3 linked regions of the Homo sapiens genome follow. The protein of the gene in region 2 interacts with the protein of the main gene of each other region in a pairwise test. Each region holds a gene or a part of one and is shown on either strand. Other genes may lie near its edges.

Region 1 (3,648 bases), on a different chromosome or scaffold from region 2:
AAGTCCCTATTTATCCCTCTATTAGTGATTTAGCCAAAGGAAAGCAAACTCATCCTAATGTGAACTGACACTCTGATTTATTGGTTTCATGTCAGTGTTATCTAGGACATCACTGGAGCTAGTAAGAGTTGACATTATAATCTAAATTCGTCTCAAACTGTAGTTTACTGATTAAAAGCAGCAGCATCACCTGGGAGCCTGTTAGAAATGCATAATCTTAGGCCCAGACCTACTGACTCAGAATCAGCATTTTAATAAGTTCTCCTGGTGCTTCATAGGCATGCTAAATGCTGCCTTAAATAGTCTCTGCTTGGCACTTCATAAAAGAAAGCAGCCAGTTTTTAATAGATTACTGACAGAAATTTCTCACTGCTCTGAACGAGTTTCTGAAGAGCAGGAAAGACATGCTGCTGAAGTGGCAGTTCATTTTTGAAGTTCACAATAATCCACTATTAAGAATTTCTACAAGTACCCTGAGGTGGTAAAAGGTCAAAGCACAGGAGTTGAGATTACTTTCTGATAGTCACATACCTCATTCCAAAATGTAAATCCACCAATCAAAAACAGAAGAGAACAATGGTAGACATGGGAATTCCAAGATGGTCTAGAGCAGTGCTCTTTAAACTACAGGTTTGCAAAGAAATAAGGAGCTTATACCAGAACAGAAAGCAACACATTACTTTGAAAAAGGCCTACTATCAGAACCAACCAATCAAAATGTCCACTTAACTAAGCAGTGAGCTTAAAACTGAAACTTAAAACTGTCCATTTAAGTAAGCAGTGAGCGTAAAACTGATTTACATCCTAGTGTAACCTCATTATCTTGTGCAGACAAACAGCTGACAAAGTGTCAGGCCAGGACCGCATTTTGAGTAGCACCGGTACAGAGGAAGAGCTCAATGATGAGATTCTAGATGAGTACTTCCCAAGCTATCTGTGGTGAAAGGCCAATTTTTATTTCTAAAAGAGGTCTACACTGTGTAAATAGGATAAAAATGAATTATAAGAAAAATAAAACTAAAATATAAAACAAGTCCTAAATTTTTATTTTTAGCTTCAGACAAAATTACTCCAATTACAATAAAAGTTTCTGCTTACTCCCAAATAAGCAGACATTCTTTAGTTATAGGACCAGAATGAGTCTATGAACTGACTTTCAGTAGCAATGTTCTGGGCAGTATCCTGACGAAGCATATGCTTAAAATTAAGGTCAAACAGCAAGTTACAGAAGCTTAGTCCTATGAGAAATTAACAATGGAGGCATATAATATACTAGTTAACCAACTGAGAGGGAATAATGGGAAAAGCTGGGTGGAACATAAAAATATTCTCATGTCCCAGCTGGGCACAGTGGCTCAGGCCTGTAATCCCAGCACTTTGGGAGGCTGAGGCGGGTAGATCACGAGGTCAGGAGTTCGAGACCAGCCTGGCCAACATGGTGAAACCCTGTCTCTACTAAAAAAGATACAAAAAATTAGCCAAGCGTAGTGGTGGGCGCCTGTAATCCCAGCTACTCGGGAGGCTAAGGCAGGAGAATTGCTTGAACCCGGGAGGCGGAGGTTGCAGTGAGCCGAGATCCCACCACTGCAGTCCAGCCTGGGTGACAGAGCGAGACTCCATCTCAAAAAAAATAAAAAATAAAAATTCTCATGTCCCTCTGAGTATCAAGATTCACAATCCAAAAGGACAACAGCAGACAAAATCACCCTACTTTCAGTCAGAAAGCATAGACATCTCATATCCTTGAGGAGCCCAATCTCTTGGCTATACAAATATACCAAACCTTGAATGGATAGAACAGTGAATGCAGGAATCCCCAATCTGTTTCATTCAGGTAAGACAGGTTTGTCCACCGCTGAACTTGATAAATAATTTTTCATTCACTAATTGCTTTGTACTGGGCATGGGCTGGCATAGGAGATGAAAAAAATGAGTAAGACACATTTCCTGCTGCAGAGGAATTCAGTCCATTCAGGGAGCCTGAGCCTGACACACAAACCAATAATTGCTAAATACTAAGAGATGTTATTATAGAGGTATGAACAAAGGATTCAATGTGCTGAAGGAAAATAGTGGCTAATAAATCCTACAGAGCAGTAGATAGGGACCTAGGTAGAACAAAGAGGAAGATTAAAAAATAAAGACATAATACAGAAAATAGGTTATAAGTTCACCAAAAGGAATGGTGAAGTTTGGTTGAGTGCAGGTACATGGGTATAGCTGAAGGCCTGAATCGGAAATGCACTGAGGACTGAGAGGAAAAGAGATGAAAAATGGTAAAGTAGCAGCACTGTTAGAATGTACTGACAAATCGAATTGGCTAGCATGTGAAGGCAAGCACCTACCATGATTTCTTAATTTCTGGCACAGACAGATGGTAATGAGCCATATAAAAGAAAGAATAGAGGAGGAAGAGCAACTTCTAGGAGTAGGAAGGAAAAGGAGACTCAATTTACACATGCTGAGTCTGAAGGGAGTAGACAAACTTTTAGCATACCCCACATTTTGTAGGCCACTGAGCTGGACAAGTATGTATCTAATACACATGCCTGCAGTGAGGCCTCGTACGGCTTACTATTAGTAGGGAACTCTGCCTCCAATTGATCACCTAAAGACATGTGGCTATGCTACAGAGCAAATACACAGTGACCAAACTGTTCTGTAGGAACACAGAGCACTTGCTCAGAGCTGAATTACTGTTACATAAACAATCACAAAACACGACATACTTTGTAATAGTATGTTTATGTTTGCTAGTTGATAAAATGGAACCAGGCTTTGAAATCTCACCATTCAACCTCTGCTTGAGAGGTGGTGAAGAAATAATTTACTACTGAGAAGAGAAGAGAAAAAACTGAATAGTGGACCCTCTGCATCCCAGAATTCCAATTGTTTTCAAGCTACTTATATTATTTTCTGTCAAACCGTATTTTGCATTGTGTTAATGTCACCTCACAATGTCTGGAACTGGGCTAAAGACAGTAAGAAATAGAAGGAAATTAAAATTATGCGGGTTAATGATGTCACACAGACAAACAGCTAAAGGACAGAAACTTGGAGAGAACCAACACTTAAGGGACACATAAATAACTCAACTGAGAAAATCTGGTTAGAGGTAGGAGGCTAGGAGAAAATGAAGTCTTTAGAACGCATCCTTGGTTTTTAACTTCCTTGTTCTTTGTGCCTCTTGAGGAAAAAAAAGATTAGTTCTATTAACTAATTATAAAAATATAAATCGAAACTTACATACACCTCAAGTTTCTCTAGGAAAACAAGACTTAAGCAAAAGCTATGACCAAAACAAGTAACAAAAACCAAAGACACACATATAACAAAACTGAACCTAGAAAAACATTTTCAGAAACAAATCAAATCTGAATAGTTATGCCCTTCCCCAAATCATGGGTTCTGAACTATTTCTACTTAAAAACGAATTCAAAATTAATATCTTATTCCCTAAATAAATCTGAGTTTTAGCAATTCCCTTCTCTTGAGGCAAACCAAGAATTATTTTTAATATCTGGAATATATAGCCCATTTTAATTAACAGATACAGACAGGAATATGACAAAATTTAGACTAAAATACTGCTTATGTTTACTGCTTAATAAAGTAAACCATACCTTTATGTTGGCTAGAATCTGCATT
Region 2 (3,648 bases):
ACTTTTTATAGATCTCTTTACTCACCATTTTTCTACTTTTATCTTTTAACCTGCAAACCTCTCCATTTTTTTTTCTTATGGAGACAGTAGCCAGGGCCCAGCTCATATTAGAAGGCACCTGGCTTCATCCTGTAGTTTCAGTACTTAAAACTTAAATTTATTCCTTTGGCTTCAGAATTTGTACCTATAAGCATGAAAATAAGTGCATTAGATGCTTTCAGGAGCTTAGATTCTAGGAGGGGCAGTGTGGGTTGAGCATACAGTAGATAGAGGCTTTCAGGGATCTGGGTGCCACTAATGCAACAATGGGTTGAGAGAGAAATATTAAAGAAATATCAAAAATGTTTCACTTCCAGGAGGTTTTGCTGATTTTGCTCAGGGTGGGCCTGTGGTTGAAGAGTATCACTTGGCAGCTTCCTTAGCTCTGCTTTACCTCATCCCTTCCAGACAAACCCGTGGTGCTCCAGTTCATTGACTGGATTCTCCGGGGCATATCCCAAGTGGTGTTCGTCAACAACCCCGTCAGTGGAATCCTGATTCTGGTAGGACTTCTTGTTCAGAACCCCTGGTGGGCTCTCACTGGCTGGCTGGGAACAGTGGTCTCCACTCTGATGGCCCTCTTGCTCAGCCAGGACAGGTAGGTGTACCCTTTCAAGCCTTCTCAGCTCCCTTCTGAGACACAGGGGCTGACCAGTTACTGTGGGCAACAGTGATAAAACCACATCCTTCCCAGGATAAACAACATTTAGTCCACAGAACTGTTTATATTTGTTTTTAGTCAGAGGTCAGGGAATCAGTTACAGTCTCTTGCTCTTGATATCTGAATAAATGGCTGGTCTAAATGATGCCAGATTCTTGTGGCATTACGTGCTAACCAGAACTAAGCTACAAGTATTTCCCTGGAGAGGTTCTGAAGGGATCTTCTTTAATGATTGATAAAATTATTTGTCGTCAGCATTCTATTTGGGAAAAAGTGCATATGAATTCAGAAAAAGTTTTAGTGGCTTAATAACCCCCGTTATATCTTGTTGCTATGATGAGTTTAGGAAACTCATTCTTCATAGACAGTGCAAAGGTCAGCTCAGCTCCTGGAGAAAAGAATAACCATGAATTCCAATTGAGTGGATTCTGACTTAAGAAGCCTTAGTGAGTCTTCTGATATATTGATTAGATTAAAAATAGCACACACTTTATAAATTGATCTGTCATTGAAGAAGTGATGAGCTGACTCTCACCAGGGCAGTAGATAGCTCCCCACTAGCCAGTTCCTTTAGGGAGGGAACCAGTATTCCAGGTGTCTGAGATCAACGCATAATCCCAATCCCCAGTGTGGTCATTACACAACTAAGCTCTTGTAACACTGGCTGCAAATTGCCTAAAGAGGTCCGTGGGGAGAGAGTTAGCAAATGCTCCACTTTTCTATCAATTTCAAGGAGTCTGATTTGCTCCCTGTAGAAGGGGATTTTATAGCTTAGGTTAAACTCTATTCCAATGCATGCCAAGAAAAGGTCTCCTCAGTTTGGGGATGGAGTCTATAATTGTGCCATACTGAATATTCCTTTATGATTTTGCTCTGATGAAACATGATCAACTCATTTTTTGTCAGATATTATTTAGAAGACAAGTCATTTATATGTGTTAGTTTCAAATGTTTTACTTTCCTTGGTCTGAAAAGACTGCATTAAAATGGAAATTCTCTGTTTTAAGTAAATATATGTCTTCCTGTGGCTTTAACTATGGCATTCCACAATTTGTAGATGTTGCCATTAATTTTCCACTGATCAAACTCAAGCATTAACATCTCCAAGTCAGTTGTTGAGAGGACAAGTCTGCATGGCTCTCTACTGTCATGTGTAGTCCCAGTCTCTGAGTTGTACCTTTGCAAATTGTATCACCTCCCATTTGCCCTCAAGGATTATTTAAGGGAAACAAAGAACTTTTGAATAGGGAACCCCACATTTAATGTTCATCTGGATTAATGTACGTGACATCATCTTGCCTGTTGCAATGGTGCCTCCTGGCCCAGTTAGAAACAAGCCAAGAAGCAGCTGTCACACTATCCCTTACCAGCCCCTGCAGTGTGGCTCACTGGCTATAGCACCTCCTGCTCGAGCCCAGCATTAGGCCTCACCTACTCACTTCACCATCTTTACTCCCCCATCCCCCTACAGACATCATCCTTGAGTGACAGGCCCTTGGGAAGTGGATCCTGTGCCTTTCACGGTGCCAGACGTTGCCAACTCTCAGAGCTGTGGGAATCCTGCCTTGTCAGGTCAATCAATCTAGGTGCCCATCAATGGTGGATTATATAAAGAATATGTGGTGCATATACAACACGAACTACTACATAGCCATAAAAAGGATTGAAATCAAGTCCTTTGCAGCAGCATGGATGTATCTGGAGACCAATATCCTAAGTGAATTAATGTAGTAACAGAAAATCAAATACCACACGTTTTCACTTACAATTAGGAGCTAAACACTGGGTAAACACGGACATGGAAATAGTAGACAACTGGGACTCCAAAAGAGGAGAGGAAGGGAAACAAGTGTTGAAAACCTACCTATCAGGTACTTTGTTCACTATTTGGGTGACGAGTTCAATAGAAGCCCAAACCTCAGTCAGCATCATGCAATACATCTATGTAACAAACCTGCACATGTACCCCCTCAATCTAAAGAAGGAGAAGAAGACGGGGAAGAAATGAGATTGAATACTAAGCAAAAAGTAACCTCAGAAAGAACTGGGTGCTCAACATGCACATAATTAAATGGGATACTTCTCCAAGTAAGAGAAAAGCAATTGTTCTTCTTTGCAATAACTTTGAAATGTGCGTTTGGAGACAACAAAATAGAAGCATCAGGACACAAAAATGTATACTAACCTGGAAGATTAATGTTGATAAGATCAAAGACACTGTGAAAGTGAATTTACATTTCAGGAATCTTATATCTCTCACCAAGAAATCAAACTTAAGCAACAGTTTCATATGCTAAAAGCGCTCTTCAAGTCAGAGGCTCTTGATTTAAAAGAATAACTTTCCAAAGGAAAGGCTAAAAGAAAACAGAGCAGATTGCCTTACTAAACTCCCCTTTCCTCTCAGCCACTGTAGACCTGTCTTTAGCCGTGACACCTGTAGAGGGAGTCATTCTCTATCAGGGGTCCCCAACCCCTGCACTGGAGACAGGTACCTGTCTGTGGCCTGTTGGGAACTGGGCCGCACAGCAGGAGGTGAGCGGTGGGCGAGTGAGCATTTCCACCTGAGCTCCGCCTCCTGTCAGATCAGCAGAAGCATTAGCTTCTCATAAGAGTGCGAACCCCATTATGAACTGGGCATGTGAGGGATCTAGGTTGCTTGCTCCTTATGAGAATCTAATGCCTGATAATCTGAGGTGGAACAGTTTCATCCCGAAATCATCCCCCATTCCCCATCCATGGAAAATTGTCTTCCATGAAACCTGTCCCTGGGGCCAAAAAGGCTGGGGACCACTGATCTAAATGCACATTTATATTTTTATCTATGTATATTTCACTTCATGTCTTTATTAGTTTTTGTACGATGCTTACGTAGACTTTGAAATACATTTCCAAATATAATCTCATTTTTTAATATGAATATGATCTGGAAGTTACTAGTGTTATTTATG
Region 3 (4,440 bases), on a different chromosome or scaffold from region 2:
ACATGGTCCTGCCCTGGGTGTCTAGGGGACATGGTCCACCCTGGGTGTCTAGGGACATGGTCCGCCCTGGGTGTCTAGGGGATATGCTTCACCCTGGGTGTCTAGGGACATGGTCCACCCTGGGTGTCTAGGGGACACGGTCCTGCCCTGGGTGTCTAGAGGACACAGCTCTACCCTGGGTGTCTAGGGGACACAGTCCTGCCTAGGTCTGAAGGGACATGGACCCACACTGTAGAATTTGAGTAAGATCTGTCCCTGACCAGAGATGGATATGACCCCATGTCTGTCACTTAGTGTGGCTGAGGGACAGGGAGAGGGGTCTGTCCTCTGAGGGAGAGAGAACCCTGGGGCATATGAGCGAGATGTTGTGCACTGATTACTAAATAAGGACAGACACGAGAAGTCCCTTCTGGTTCTCTGAGAAGAAAGGCAACCTGTAGTTCGACCATCCAGCCCTTCTTCCCCCAGGTCCGTAAACATGGATTAGGCATCTGTCATGAGCCAGGCGCTTCTTCATCTAGTGAATGCCACCCTTCAGCGTGGGTTGCAGAACTCAAGAGAGGATCAGCAACCTGTCCCAGGTAACCCAGAGGATCTGTGGGCTGGGATTGGTACCTGATTCTCAGGCTCTTTTCTCCCTGCCAGGGTGAGCTATTGACAAGAAGACACCATTCCTCAGTACTTTCCCCTGGATATATGTGTGGGGTCAGACATGTACATAAAGTTGGGGAACATGTGTGAGGTTGGGCACATGTGTGGTTGGCATGCATGTGGGTGTGGTCAGGGACATGTCTGTGCCATTAGGGTTAGGGCCCTGATGGTGGCAGCTGCCCTAATTCTAAGGCTCAATGTGTTGGCCCGGCTGGTTGTATGACTGGAAGACTCTGAGGGCCATGGCAAAGTTCTCAGGTTCTGAGCCAAGGCAGCTCACTTCCTACACATTCTTGCCCCAGCCCTGATGTGGGTGGAGCTGGGCCTACTCTTACTGATAGGGGTCTTGGGTGGACGGCAGCAGATGACAGCTGGTCTTCTCCTCATGTTGGGCCCTGCTGGGGTCTGATTTCTGGAGCATGGAGGTCCCCACCTCCTTCAGAGCCTCACGGGCTGATGGAGGGTGATGGTGACCCACACAGGGCTAAGGTGGGTGGTGACATGGCCCCCAGCCCTGCCCATGTCTTTGGTGCTTCCGTGAGGGAAGAGCTAAGGCCTTGCTCAGACTGTAGGCAGATGTCAGGCAGATGGCCTCCAAATGCAATTTCCCTAGAACTGGGAAAAGATGAGTTCCTGGGGGTGAGGGAGAAGAGTCCTTGGCTGAGAACTGACTTAACCCCCACCCCCAGCTTTCTGTCTGCACCTAGGCCAGCTCAGTTTCTGTACCCAGGCCTCAGGGCAGCCTGTGAGGGGCCCAAGTACGCCTCACAGGGCTCAAGCCAGCATAGCTCCCCTTACAGGGACACTGGAGCTGACACCTGACTCTAGCCCAGCCTTGTGGTCATGCCCTCTGGGCAACAGCAGGGACAGGCTACATCTGGGTCCAGGGCTCTGTCCCTATGTCCCCATCAAACCCTCCAGTTCAGGGCTGTGTCCCCCCATAACAACTTCCCCATGGCTCTGTCCTCTCTATCCCACACTGTCCCCAAGCCCCCACCCCTCAGGACTTCCCTGGGCACCTCTCACTGCCTCTTGCATTTCTGTTTTCCTGCTCCCTCTGGTCCGCCCCTGCCTGCACAGCCTCCATCCCCTGCTCCTCCCTGGCCCTGGCTCCTGGGCCTTCTCCCTCTGGCCTCACAATTCAGAACTCTAGGTCTGGTCTGCCAGCTCCCTCGTTGGCTCCCCTTTCAGGCTCCGCAGGAGTGGGGTACAAGGGGGTTAGGGAGGCTACAGATGGCCCCACCCTTCCTGGCCCCAGCCAGGCTCTCCACCAGGGCTCTCCCCCAGCTTCTGTGCTATCTCAGCAGCTCCTCCCACCTCTCCCACTGTGTGCCTGCTCCCAATTTACCCTCCTTCCAAACCAGAACTCATCATGACTTGTCCCTGAGCAGAAACCTTCTAAAGCTCCCGGTTATCACCAGGACCAAGTCAGACTTCCCAGTCCCTAGGTCCTGCCCTGCCTGCCCCTCTGGACCTAGTGCTCCACATAGCTTCTCTGTAAAGGGTCTCCTCATCCTGCTGCCCCCACCCTCCAACTTGGAATGCCCTCGTCTCCATCTTAAGGCTATGTCTCCCCCTCCATTAGACAGGGGTCCCTGGAACATCTCTGGAGATAGAGGCTGTTGCCTCCAGAAGACCCTAAATTCAGGGTCTGTTCCATCAGACTAGAGGTCCAGGAAACCCAGGGCTGTGCACCTCCCTGCCAGTGAGACCAAAGGCTGGAGGATGGGGGCCCAGTATCCCCCATCAGTCTGGGCAGGGCTGTGTCCCCAAGTCAGGCTGGGAATCCCTAAGGTCAAGGTGAGTCTCCCCCGTCAGACTAATGTTCCAGAAATCGGGTACTGTGCCCTTCCATCAGACCAGGGACCCTAAGAGTGGGGCTGAGTCTCTCTCACAGCCTGGCAGGGCTTGGGGCAGGGCTGCATCGCCCGGGAGACTGGATCTCTCAGGGCAAGAGTAAGGGATCAAACAAGCTCCGGATCAAAAAGGCGTCCCCTCTCCCCCAGCCCCCTGCCTGGAGGGTGACAGCCTCCCCAGTCCCTCCGTGCCGCGGCCTCACCTCCACCAGCTGCCCGGCAACCCCCGCGAGGCACACCCCGAGTGCGGCGCCGCCCAGCACGCAGAGGGGACCCGCGCCCGGCCACCCCGCCATCTTCGTGCCACCGCGCCGCTTGCGGAGCCCAGGGACGAACGGGCCGGCCGCCGGTCACTGCCCCTGCCAGCCGGCGCTCGGTGGCCACGGGCTTTGGCCACGGGTAGTCAGCGAGCATCATTTATTCATCCTCGGTGTCAGGTTCCCGCGCCGCCCGCCCCCGCCATCGCTGCGGTGGAGGGCCCGCCCCCTCCTTCCCGGGAGATCGGGCCGCAGGCTCCCCCTCCCTGCCCCCACCTTCCGCATCCCCAGGGACACTGAGGTGGGGGTGGGCGGGAGGGAGGACAGGCTGGGGCCAGGTCCCTAATCAACAGGTCCCCCTCCCTTCTGCAAATGGGCCTCAGTTTCTCCATCTGGGACAAGGGGGTGGGACTGGAATCTGCTGATCTAGGAGGCCCTTCCCATTCTGTCATGCTGGATTTGAAAAATATACTGGATTTGAGTTTGGGGGGGGGGCAGAGCGGGCAGGTTGCCATGGTGACAGGCGCTCAGGGATGTCCTGGGCTTTCTGGCTTGGCTTCCTGCCCAGAGGCGGCTCTGGTCACCCTGGACACCAGAGCTGGAGAGCAGGGGATGGTATGGTCAGAGCTGCCAGCCGGCAGTGTTATGGAGGGTTCCAGAAGAAGCCAGCATCTTCAGCCCCACAGGACAGAAGTGGGCTGTCCCTGGAAGGGCTGGAGGACCATTTTCTGACCCTGGCTGCCCTCAATCTCTGCCCCAGCCTGAACACTGACTCTGACTTCAGTCTAAGCCAGGACCCTGACCTCATGCTGAAGTTGACCCACACTGCACTCTGGCCCTGACCCCATGTTGAGCCTTGACAACTGAGGGACAGAGGGAGGTTCTGAGGAGATGTAGAGACCTGGGTGGGGGCTGAAGACTTAGGAAGAGGAGTGGGGAGGCCTGGAGTTGGTAGACTCCCCTTCCCTCCTTTTCTTCCTTCCTTCTATTCTTATTTATCTCCTGCTGCTGAGTGTTAGGAGAAGCAGCCCAGGTGTTGGGCCCCTGGAACCCTTATCACCAGGGGCACTGGTGAAGGCCTGCGCAGGCTGGGGATGGCCCAGCAAGGCCTGCCCTGAGAACCAGGGAGACCCTGTGGCTCCAGAGCCCTGTGAGGTTCTGGCCTGGACATGCCATGAATGGGCAAGGACCACAGCAGGCTGCAGCAGGGAGCGGAGGGCCACCTGCGGTCACCTGCCAGTGTCAGGGCCCGGAGATGACAGCCAGGCAGGAAAACGAGAGCTGTTGGAGAAGGACTGCAGCCCAGGAGACCCATCGAGGAAACGCTCAACAGTGGGAGGTAAAGTCTGGGGACTGAGTGGGCTGGGCCACCCAGTCCTCCCCAGGCATGCCCTGGCCAGGCAAACAGGAACTCTGCTAAAATCCAAATCACTTGTTGCAGCACTCCAATCCCCACTTCCTCATGCTGCTGGTCACAGGCCAGGCTAGGGAAAGCCACACTGACCAGTCAGGGAGGTCACCCTCGGGACATGGGGTCAGGGAGGCTGGACAGGGTGAGGACTAAGTGAGCCTGTCAGTAATGCACTGAGCAAAGCATTACTCCTCTGTTTCTGTTTCTTATCCATGGCATGGGGAGGGTGAGACTCCCATGATTGATGTGAGGATGATATGAATTA

What was found.
Region 1: the proteins of SLC14A1 (region 2) and C1GALT1 interact in a two-hybrid assay, tested with the Homo sapiens proteins (one large-scale study listed by BioGRID).
Region 3: the proteins of SLC14A1 (region 2) and TMIE interact in a two-hybrid assay, tested with the Homo sapiens proteins (one large-scale study listed by BioGRID).

Annotation. Positions count from the first base shown.
Region 1 is NC_000007.14:7,234,515-7,238,162, reverse strand, and holds part of C1GALT1 (glycoprotein-N-acetylgalactosamine 3-beta-galactosyltransferase 1), read right to left. Parts: coding exon 3,624-3,648; intron 3,602-3,623; exon of another isoform or gene 1,784-3,601; intron 1,778-1,783; exon of another isoform or gene 532-1,777; intron 1-531. UniProt on the Homo sapiens protein: Glycosyltransferase that generates the core 1 O-glycan Gal-beta1-3GalNAc-alpha1-Ser/Thr (T antigen), which is a precursor for many extended O-glycans in glycoproteins.
Region 2 is NC_000018.10:45,730,568-45,734,215, forward strand, and holds part of SLC14A1 (urea transporter 1), read left to right. Parts: intron 1-447; coding exon 448-637; intron 638-3,648. UniProt on the Homo sapiens protein: Mediates the transport of urea driven by a concentration gradient across the cell membrane of erythrocytes.
Region 3 is NC_000003.12:46,699,851-46,704,290, reverse strand, and holds the start of TMIE (transmembrane inner ear expressed protein isoform 1 precursor), read right to left. Parts: upstream 2,900-4,440; 5' UTR 2,804-2,899; coding exon 2,711-2,803; intron 1-2,710. UniProt on the Homo sapiens protein: Auxiliary subunit of the mechanotransducer (MET) non-specific cation channel complex located at the tips of stereocilia of cochlear hair cells and that mediates sensory transduction in the auditory system.